Linked DNA regions of Homo sapiens: region 2 is linked to region 1. The links come from fine-mapping of genetic effects on gene expression. Tissue or cell type: whole blood. Region 1 holds a variant in brackets; the other region holds the start of a gene. All regions are shown on one strand. Distances are between the middles of the regions. Region 1 has its middle 6.8 kb from the start of TSPAN16. Region 2 holds the start of TSPAN16-AS1 (TSPAN16 antisense RNA 1).

Region 1 (5,371 bases):
AAGACCCCTGTCAGGCCAGGCACAGTGGTTCACACCTGTAATCCCAGCACTTTGGGAGGCCGAGGCGGGTGGATCACCTGAGGTCAGGAGTTCAAGACCAGCCTTGGCCAACATGGGGAAGCCCCGTCTCTACTAAAACTACAAAATTAGCTGGATGCGGTTAATTACAGGTGGGCACCTGTAATCCCAGCTACTCAGGAGGCTGAGGCAGAAGAATTGCTTGAGCTGGGGAGATGGAGGTTGCAGTGAGCCGAGACCGCACCACTGCACTCCAGCCTGGGCGACAAAGCGAGACTCTGTCTCAAAAAAATAAAATAAAATAAGAAGACCCCTGTCCTACAGGGACACTCACTGCTTTCCCAGTTCCTCTCTCTTGCTACATAAAGAAAGATCTGCAATTTCTACCCCTTCAGCTACCTTAGCTTCTGGCTGGAAAAGAGGGAAGTGAAATTAAGGAGAACCAGGAGATGGGTTTTTGTTTGTTTGTTTGTTTTTTGAGACAGGGTCTCGCTTTGTCTCCCAGGCTGGAAGTACAGTAGTGTGATCTCAGCTCCCTGCAACCTCACCCTCCTGGGCTCAAGCGATCCTCTCGCTTTGGCCTTTAGAGTAGCTGGGACCAATGGCACGTGCCACCACGCCCGGCTAATTTTTTTATTTTTTGTGGAGACAGGGGTCTCGCTATGTTTCCCAGATTGGTCTCGAACTCCTGGGCTCAAGCAATCCTCCTGACTTAGCCTCTCAAAGCGCTGGGATTACAGGTATGAGCCACCACACCCAGCCAAGATCCTTGATAATATTAAAAATATTTAGTATATAAGGTATACCCAGGCAGTGATGAGAAGGGAGGGTTTCAGGGGTATCAACCTTGAAGGGTTAGGAGGACTGGAGGGTCCTGATGAGAGTTCAGGAAGCAGCGAGTGGCCCCAGACCAGTGCATGCAGGTGACACATCTCGAGGGGGCTTCTGTTCTTGTTAGCATGGGGGATCGGGTTCTAATTCCCTCTGTTGTCTGGGCAGCTGGTCCCAGGGTGGCCAAGACTGTTCCCATCCCATATTCCTCAAGTATCTCACTTAAACACATTGAAAAGGTTGGCCAGGTGCAGTGGCTCACGCTTGTAATCTCAGCACTTTGGGAGGCCAAGGCAGGCGGATCACTTGAGGTCAGGAGTTTGACACCAGCCTGGCCAACATGGTGAAACCCCGTCTCTACCAAAAATGCAAAAATTAGCCGGGCATGGTGGTGCATGCCTGTAATCTCAGCTACTCAGGAGGCTGAGGCAGGAGAATCGCTTGAACCCGGGAGGCGGAGGTTGCGTTGAGCCGAGGTCTTGCCACTGCACACGCCAGCCTCGGCAACACAGTGAGACTCTGTCTCAAAAAAAAAAAAAAAAGACCTCATAAATAGCTTTTGGAGATTTTATTACAGGCGGACCTGTAACAACCGCAAATGGACTTTTAAAACCTTGTGGGGAATGTTTCTCCTTCTAGGAATTCCTACTACAGATTTATTCAAATGCACATAGGCCAAGAGCTGGCAGATTTTTCTGGAAAGAGCCAGAAAGTAAATATTTTCAGCTTTGCGGACCATACCGTCTCTGTTGGGACTCTGCTATTGCAGCCATAGAAAATATGTAAATGGACAATATGTAAATATATGTAAATGAACAAGTGTGACTCTGTCAAAATAAAATGTTATTTATAATATGAGATGGTTTTGTTATTTACAAAAATGGGTGGCAGAATGTAGTTTTGCTAATGCCTGCTCTTAAGCCTCGCTTGACTTGTGAATGATTGGAAACAACAACTTAAGTGCCCTTTGTTTTTGTTTTTTTGTTTTTTTTTTAGACGAAGTCTCACTCTGTTGCCCAGGCCGAGGGCAGTGGTGCAATCTCAGCTCATTGCAACCTTCATTTCCTGGGTTCAAGCAATTCTCCTGCCTCGGCCTCCCCAGTAGCTGGGACTACAGGCATGCCCCACTATGCCCAGCTAATTTTTGTATTTTTGGTAGAGACAGGGTTTCACCATGTTGGCCAGACTGGTCTCGATCTCCTGACCTCAGGTGATCCACCTGCCTCGGCCTCCCAAAGTGCTGGGATTACAGCCGTGAGCCATCGTGCCCGGCCTTAAATGCCCTTTGAAAGTATTAGTAGCTGATTAAGTATAAGATTGTCCAACTAGAGGAAAAGATGCTCAAAAGCTGAGAAAATGAATGCAGAAATCTTTGTTGCTTTTTTGCAGACTGGATCTCACTTTGTTGCTCAGGCTGGAGTGCAGTGATGTGATCATAGTTCATTGTAGCTTCAAACTCCAG[G/A]GCTCAAGTGATCCTCCCGCCTCAGCCTCCTGAGTAGCTGAGACTACAGGCACACACTACCGCACCTGCCTTTTTTTTTTTTTTTTCCATTTTTGGTAGAGACAGGCTCTAGCAATGGTCTTGAACTCCTGGACTCAAGTGATCTGGCTGCCTCAGCCTCCCAAAATCCTGGGATTACAGGCATGAGCCACCACACCTGCTCAAATTCTTAACTAAAAGAATTGACAACGGGAGCCAGGCGCGGTGGCTCATGCCTATAATCCCAGCACTTTGGGAGGCCAAGGCTGGCAGATCACTTGAGGTCAGGAGTTTGGAGCCTGGCCAACATGGTGAAACCCCGTCTCTACTAAAAATACAAAAATTAGCTGTATGTGGTGGCAGGCGCCTGTAATCCTGGCTACTTGGGAGGCTGAGGCAGGAGAATCATGTGAACCCGGGAGGCGGAGTTTGCAGTGAGCCGAGATCACGCCACTGCACTCCAGCCTGGGCGACAGAGCGAACTCTGTCTCGAAAAAAAAAAAAGACAAATATTGCATGATTCCACTCATTTGAGGTCCCTAGAGTCATCAGATTCATAAAGACAGAAAACAGAATGGTGGGTACCAGGGAATGGAGAGGAGCGTGGGGAGTGAGTGTTTCATGGGGATAGAGTTTCAGTTTGGAAAGATGAGAAAGTTCTGGAGACGGATGGTGGTGATGGCTGCACAGCGATGTGAATGTGCTTAATGCTGCTGAACTGTACTTTTCTTTTTTTTTTTGAGACAGAGTCTTGCTCTGTTGCCAAGGCTGGAGTGCAGTGGCGTGATCTTGCGATCTCAGCTCCCTGCAACCTCCATCTACTGGGTTCGAGCAACTCTCCTGCCTCAGCCTCCTGAGTACCTGGGACTACAGGAGCGTGCCACCATGCCCGGCTAATTTTTGTAATTTTAGTAGAGACGGGGTTTCACCATGTTGCCCAGGCTGGTCTCAAACTCCCGACCTCAAGTGATCCGCCCACCTCAGCCTCCTAAAGTGCTGGGATTACAGGTGTGAGCCACCACACCCGGCCTGAACTGTACACTTAAAATGGTTAAAATGACAAAATTTTAAGTTATATATATTTTGCCACAGTAGAAAAGAAATAAATGTTGTAAAAGGAACAGGACTACAAGGCCTCCTGGTGGGAATAGAGGGAAATGACTCGGCCCGGTACCTGCTAATGTTCTCGCAGTTCCTGTAGAACTTCATGTCCAGCTCTGGTTACCGTGAGCACCACAGTGGGTTAAGTCATGTCACCACAAAATTCATATCCATCTGGAGCCTCAGATGAGACCCTATCTGAAAACAGGGTCTTTGCAGATGTCATTGGTTAAACATCTTGAGATGAAGTCAGCCTAGATTTAGGTCAGGTCCTAAATCCAATATCTGGTCAATATCTGGTGTCTTTATAAGACATAGGAGAGGGGTTAGGGGTGGTGGCTCATGCCTGTAATCCCAGCACTTTGGGAGGGCAAGACCAGAGGAGACAGGAGGCTTGAGGCCAGGAGTTCAAGACCAGCCCGGGCAACATATCGAGACCCTGTCTCTAAAAAAATAAAAATTAGCCAGGTATGGTGGCGTGTATCTGTAGTACTAGCCACTCTAGAGGCAGAGTTGGGAGGATGTCTTGAGCCTGGGAAGTCGAGGCTGCAGTGAGGTATGATGGTGCCACTGCATTCCATCCTGGGCAACAGAGCAAGACCTTGTCTCAAAAATAAATAAATAAGGTTGTTGGTTAAAAAAAAAAAAAAAAAAAAAAAGACCAGGCTCTGTGGCTCACACCTGTAATTCCAGCACTTTGGGAGGCCAAGGCGGGTGGATCACAAGATTAGGAGATGGAGACCATCCTGGCTAACACGGTGAAACCCCGTCTCTACTAAAAATACAAAAAAAATTAGCCAGGCATGGTGGCGGGCGCCTGTAGTCCCAGCTACTCGGGAAGCTGAGGCAGGAGAATGGCGTGAACCCAGGAGGCAGAACTTGCAGTGAGCCGAGATCGCGCCACTGCACTCCAGCCTGGGTGACAGAGCAAGACTCTATCTCAAAAAAAAAAAAAAAGGAGGCCAGGTGTGGTGGCTCATGCCTGTAATACCCAGTGCTTTGGGAGAGTGAGGTGGGTGGATTTTGAGGCAAGGAGTTTGAGGTCAGCCTGGCTAACATGGCAAAACCCTCTCTCTATTAAAAATAGAAAAATTAGCTGGTTGTGGTGGTGGACGCCTGTACTCCAGGCTACTAGGGAGGCTGAGGCAGGAGAATCACTTGAACCCAGGAGGCAGAGGTTGCAGTGAGCTGAGATTACACCATTGCACTCCAGCCTGGGTAATAGAGTGAGACTCTGTCTCATAAAAAAATGAGAGAGAGAAAGAGAGACAGGAGAGGAACATTTGGACACAGACAGAGGGGAGAAGGCCACAAGATGATGGAAGAGGCAGTGATTGGAGTGACGTGGCCACAATCCAGCGACCACCAGGGGCCACCAGAAGTTGGAAGAGGCAAGGAAGGAACCTTCCCCAGAGCTTTTGGGGGCAGCACGGCTCTGTTGACACCTTGATTTCAGACTTCTGGCATCCAGAACAGTGAAAGAATAAATTTTAGGGGGCTGGGCGTGGTGGCTGACGCCTGTAATTCCAACACTTTGGGAGGCCAAGGCGGGCGGAGCACCTGAGGTCGGGAGTTTGAGACCAGCCTGACCAACATGGCAAAACCCTGTCTCTACTAAAAATACAAAAATTAGCCGGGCATGGTGTCACATGCCTATAATCCCAGCTACTCAGAAGGCTGAGGCAGAAGAATCGCTTGAGCCTGGGAGGCAGTGGTTGCAGTGACCTAAGATCGCCCCACTGCTCTCCAGCCTGGGCGACAGAGGGAGACTGTGTCTCAAAAAATAAAAGAATAAATTCTTGTTGTTTTAAACCAGCAAGCTGGTGATGATTTGTTATGGCAGCTCCCAAAAATCTAACACAGACAGGAAGCAGTGGGTGGGTGATGACATATTTCAGCTGCCTGTGGGGGCTGAGAAACACAGCACAAGATTTGGGAAAA
Region 2 (5,371 bases), 33 kb before region 1:
ACCTCAGAGCCAGGAGCCTGGGGCTGGGGCCTCCCTCCCAGGCCCTGTTTAGCTGTTTAGCTGGTTGTGTTTTAAGCAAGTTCTTGCCCAATCATGCATCCTGCTAGAAAAGGAAATGAAGCAACGTTCCCAGCCACCGCAGGCAGTTGTCGGCGACTTTCTGATGTAAGCACCTGGGCTCCGACTTGAGGGGGGCCCTTCAAGACCCAATGTCCATTTCCCAATCCTTGTCATCGGCAGGGCCCAGGGATGTGACAATTTTTGCTAATGGAGGAGTCACTTCTTTTTTTTTTTTTTTCTTTTTGAGATGGTCTGGCTCTGTCACCCAGGCTGGAGTGCAGTGGTGCAATCATAGCTCACCACAGCCTCAAACTAGGGGTCACTTCTAAGGGATGCTGGGGGTTGGGCGGAAGGGGTGAGGAGGTAGGATTGAGTAACTTGCTGTCACTGCTTGTACTTTGTAGACAGCCTGAGAGTGGCAGGACCTTATGTGAATGGGGGGGATGGACTGTGATCAGTGCCGGGGAGTCTCTGAAGCTGGGGTCCCCACCTCCAGGGGCTTCTGCTCAGAGGTTACGTGTGCAGTTTGAAGATGTACATCTTGACCTCCGGTTTAGAGGCACTTTCTGCCCATCAGATTCCAAACTCTAGGGGCGCAGCACCTTTTCTTTGCTCCCAAACACCAACCAACACCCCTTCACAGGACCAGCACTGTTAGGATGGCTAAGTGGATGTTTTATGTTCCCACGTCCCTGACTCTGTTTCAGAGGTTGTGTCTGCTCTCCCAGCCCCTGAAGCCAAAATGACTTCCTGCAGCTTTCATGAGCTCAGCCTCTTCCCTGGGGTATGTGTGAGGGGGAAAGCCTGGTTCAAGTTTAGATTTATTTCTAGGGAGCCCTGGTTTCTTCATACCAGAGGCTACCCTTAGAACTTTGGAGTGGGGTATCTTTTTTTCATTTGTTTTTTTGATACAGAGTCTCGCTCTATTGCCCAGGCTGGAGTGCGGTGGCACAATCTCAGCTTACTGCAACCTCCACCTCCAGGGTTCAAGCGATTCTCCTGCCTCAGCCTCCCGAGTAGCTGGCATTACAGGCACCTGCCACCACACCCGGCTAAATTTTGTATTTTTAGTAGAGAAGGGGTTTCACCATGTTGGTGAGGCTTGTCTCAAACTGACTTCAAGTGATCCACTTGCTTCGGCCTCCCAAAGTGCTGGGATTACAGGCGTGAGCCATCACGCCCAGCCGAGGGTATCTTTTATACCAACAAATTAGATGACTGAGGTGTAATGGACAAATCCTATGCACAAAGTGAGGGTATCTGAATATGTGGGCGGGAGTCAAAAATTTTTAGCTACTTTAACACTAAAGTCAAACTAAAGTAGCTTCAAAAAGACTTCTCAAGATGCAGTATGGCCTGCTGAGGTTTTTTTGTTTTTTTTTTTTTTAAGACAGAGAGTCGCTCGTCGCCCAGGCCGCAGTGCAGTAGCATGATCTCAGCTCACTGCAACCTCCACCTCCCGGGTTCAAGCGATTCTCCTGTCTCAGCCTCCTAAGTAGCTGGGACTACAGGCACCTGCCACCACGCCCATCTAAGTTTTGCATTTTTAGTAGCGACGGTTTCACCTTGTTGGCCAGGCTGGTTTTGTTGGCCAATTGTCTCTAAACTGCTGTCAAAAAAAGGAATGGATCAGATTGTCTTGAATAGGGCAGAGCTAACCTGTAATCACCTGTGTGATGAGAAACAGCTTTGACTGCATTTTACTCCTGACCTGGCCTAAGCTTTCTGTTTACATAAGATTTTTCAAGAATTCAACTTCAAGTAGCAGCCGAGAGAGCTGCCTCAGGATTCTCTCAAAAACTGGGAATAATATGGGAACATTTGTTTCTTCTAAAAATAAGGCAAATGTTACATTGAATGATTTGGGGGGTGAGGTTTAATTGGAAATGGTCTCTGGGGACTGAAAACTGATGTTTTTGCAGATTACCTCAGGGAAACGGAGGTTTGTTGAGTTTACAGACACATTAAACCAAAGGCCGTGGGAAAACCCCTCTCCAGCTCCAGGGGATTGGTCAGGACCACCCACTAACCAGTGCCTTCCTTCTTAACATTCACTTTTAGCAGCTTGTGTTTATTTTACATGGGCAGTTTTGATGGGAAATTGCCATGACCACAGGGGTTTGGAGTTCTGCTTTTTTTTTTTCTTCTTCTTTTTCGGGGGACTGGGGGACTCCTCCCAAGATCACATTTTAGCATCTTTCTCTCCTACTCCATTTAGAAAAATAAGTAACAGGTGAAATGTGGTCTCAGTGTTAACGGGATAATTCTGCTACCGGCTCCTCCCTGATGATTCTGAAATACACTACTGAACGAGCTCTGGCTGGTCCTTTCTATCCTGGATGTGGTTCTTCTGTGTAGCAATTCCTTGATGTCCAGTTTGGAAAGATGTACTCTTCTCAACAAGAAAAACTTAAATCCGTCGTGCCCAAATATAGTTGTGCTTTTATTTCCATTAGTGAAGTGCGTTTCTGGGAAAGGGGGTTTGATTTGCAACTAAGCAGATATCAGTCAAGGGCTCTTCAAGACACAGCAGAAACCTCACCGGGCCTCGGGCTGCCTCCCACTGGGTCCCATGGCCACCACCTTGACCTTGGAAAGCTCTGTTATATGGAAGGTAGGGAGGACACTATTTCCCTCAACTACTTCTAGTAAAAAGCTCAGTTCTCTCCCCAGCAGCAAGAGGGCACCTGTGAACACCTGAGTCACAGCGCATTCCTCCTCTGCTTAGAACATTCGATGGCTCCCACCTTACTTGCAGTAAATGCTGAGGTCCTTCCTGTGGCCCCCGGGGCCCTGCATGATCTGATCCATCCCTTCCCTACCCTCATCTCTCCACTGGCCTCCCCACACTTGCTCCCCTCCGGCCACTCTGGCCTACTTGCTGCTATCTGAACATACCAGGCCCCTGCCCCAAGGCCTTTGCCCAGAATGTTCCCCCTGCCTCTGCCTGGATGGCCCTTACCCAAGGTAGTCACAGTTGATATGGTTTGGCTTTGTGTCCCCACCCAAATCTCATCTGGAATTGTAATCCCCATAATCCTCACGTGTCAAGGGAGAGACCAGGTGGAGGTCATTGAATCCTGGGGGCGGTTCCCCCATGCTGTTCTCCTGATAGCAAGTGAGTTCTCACGAGATCTGATGGTTTTATAAGGGATTCTTCCGCCTTCTCTCGGCTCTTCTCCTTCCTGCCACCTTGTGAAGAAGGTATCTGGCTTCCCCTTTGCCTTCTGTTATAATTGTAAATTTCCTGAGGCCTCCCCAGCCATGTTGAACTGTGAGTAAATTAAACCTCTTATGTTTTTTTGGGTATTTTTTTGTTTTTTTTTTTTTGAGACTCAGTCCTACTCTGCCACCCAGCTGGAGTGCAGTGGTGCCATCTTGGCTCACTGCAACCTCCGCCTCCCAGGTTCAAGCAATTCTCCTGCCTCAGCCTCCCGAGTAGCTGGGATTACAGGCACACTCCACTACGCCTGGCTAATTTTTGTGTTTTTAGTAGAGACGGGGTTTCACCACGTTGGCCAGGCTGGTCTCGAACGCCTGACCTCATGATCTGCCCACCTTGGCCTCCCAAAATGCTGGGATTACAGGCGTGAACCACCGTACACGGGCAAACCTCTTTCCTTTATAAATTACCCAGTCTTGGGCAGTTCTTTCCAGCAGTAGGAAAACAGACTAATACAACAAAGCTCCCCTAACTGAACTTCCTCTTTTGGGCTACTGTGCAAATCTCACTTTCTCACTGCCCCCTCCCCTGATTTAGTACTGCAATCTCCCTCCCCAGCATTTCTTTTTTCTTTTTCTTTTCTTTTCTTTTTTTTTTTTTTGGAGACAAGGTCTTGCCGTATGGCCCTGGCTGGAGTGCAGTGGCACAATCATGGCTCACTGCAGCCTCGAACTCCTGGACTCAAAGGATCCTCCCACTTCAGCCTCCTGAGTTTCTGGAACTACAAGCAAGCACCACCACATCCAGCTGATTGAGTGATTGAGAGATGGGATCTTGCTATGTTGCCCAGGCTGGTCTTGAACTCCCAGCTTCCAGCCATGCTCCCGCCTTGGCCTCCCAAAGTGCTAGGATTGGCCAGGTGTGGTGGCTCATGCCTGTCATTCCAGCACTTTGGGAGGCTGAGGCAGGAGGATCACTTGAGGTCAGGAGTTTGAGATCAGCCTGGCCAACATGACAAAACCCCATCTCTACTAAAAATATAACAAATAGCTGGGCCTGGTGGCACATGCCTGTAATCCCAGCTACTCGGGAGGCTGAGGCGGGAGAATCGCTTGAACAAGTGGGGCAGAAGTTGGGGTGTGCCGAGATCGTGCCATTGCACTCCAGCCTGGATGACAAGAGAGAAACTCCGTCTCAAAAAAAAAAAAAAAAGTCCTGGCCGGGCGTAGTGGCTCAGGCCTGTAATCCCAGCACCTTGGGAGGCGGAGGCGGGCAGGTCACGAGGTCAAGAGATCGAGATCATCCTGGCTAACACGGTAAGACCCCGTCTCCACTGAAAATACAACAAAAAAATTAGCCGGGCGTGGTGGCGGGCGCCTGTAGTCCCAGCTACGCGGGAGGCTGAGGCAGGAGAATGGCGTGAACCCGGGAGGTGGAGCTTGCAGTGAGCCAAGATCGCGTCACTGCATTCCAGCCTGGGCGACAGAGCGAGACTCCGTCTCAAAAAACAAAACAAAACAAAACAAAATACAACCTAAATGACAGGTTTGGAGAGCTTCTGAGTTGATGAACACATGGAGGTGCTGGAAGGGTGGTGCCCCCCTCCCCAAGAAAGGGTGTGGAAGTGCTGCACACCATCCCCCACACATTGCCCTCTTTATCACTTCCATTTGGCTGTTCCTGAGTTGTCTCCTTTTTTTGTTTTTTTGTTTTGTTTTGTTTTGTTTTGTTTGTTTTGAGACAGAGTCTCGCTCTGTCGCCCAGGCTGGAGTGCAGTGGCGCGATCTCGGCTCACTGCAAGCTCCGCCTCCCGGTTCAAGCGATTCTTCTGCCTCAGCCTCCGGAGTAGCTGGGATTACAGGGCGTGTGCCACCACGCCCGGCTAACTTTTGCATTTTTAGTAGAGACGGGGTTTCATCATATAGGCCAGGCTGGTCTCAGACTCCTTACCTCGTGATCCGCCCGCCTTGGCCTCCCAGAGTGCTGGGATTACAGGCATAAGCCACTGCGCCTGGCCTGAGTTGTCTCCTTTATAATAAATCAGGAGTAGTAAGTAAAACACTTGCCTGAGATCCGTGAGTCATTCTAGCAAATTATCAAACCTGAAAGGGAGGGGGCTTGTGAGAACCCCCCCTGACTTTGTAGCCA

The links.
Region 2: it holds the start of TSPAN16-AS1, and the variant in region 1 is fine-mapped to the expression of TSPAN16-AS1 in whole blood (TOPMed, PIP 0.99).

Annotation. Positions count from the first base shown.
Region 1 is chr19:11,286,650-11,292,020 of GRCh38, reverse strand. No RefSeq gene overlaps it. Among named protein-coding and RNA genes, the nearest start is that of TSPAN16, 6.8 kb to the left of the region's middle. The variant G/A (reference allele first, on the strand shown) is at 2,312.
Region 2 is chr19:11,319,187-11,324,557 of GRCh38, reverse strand. It overlaps TSPAN16-AS1 (TSPAN16 antisense RNA 1), which reads left to right and starts at 3,233. Exons shown (of 3, transcript NR_187778.1): 1 at 3,233-3,334. RAB3D (RAB3D, member RAS oncogene family) reads left to right here. Exons shown (of 5, transcript NM_004283.4): 5 at 1-2,490. It also overlaps a transcript of TSPAN16 not described here. RefSeq lists an enhancer at 101-310.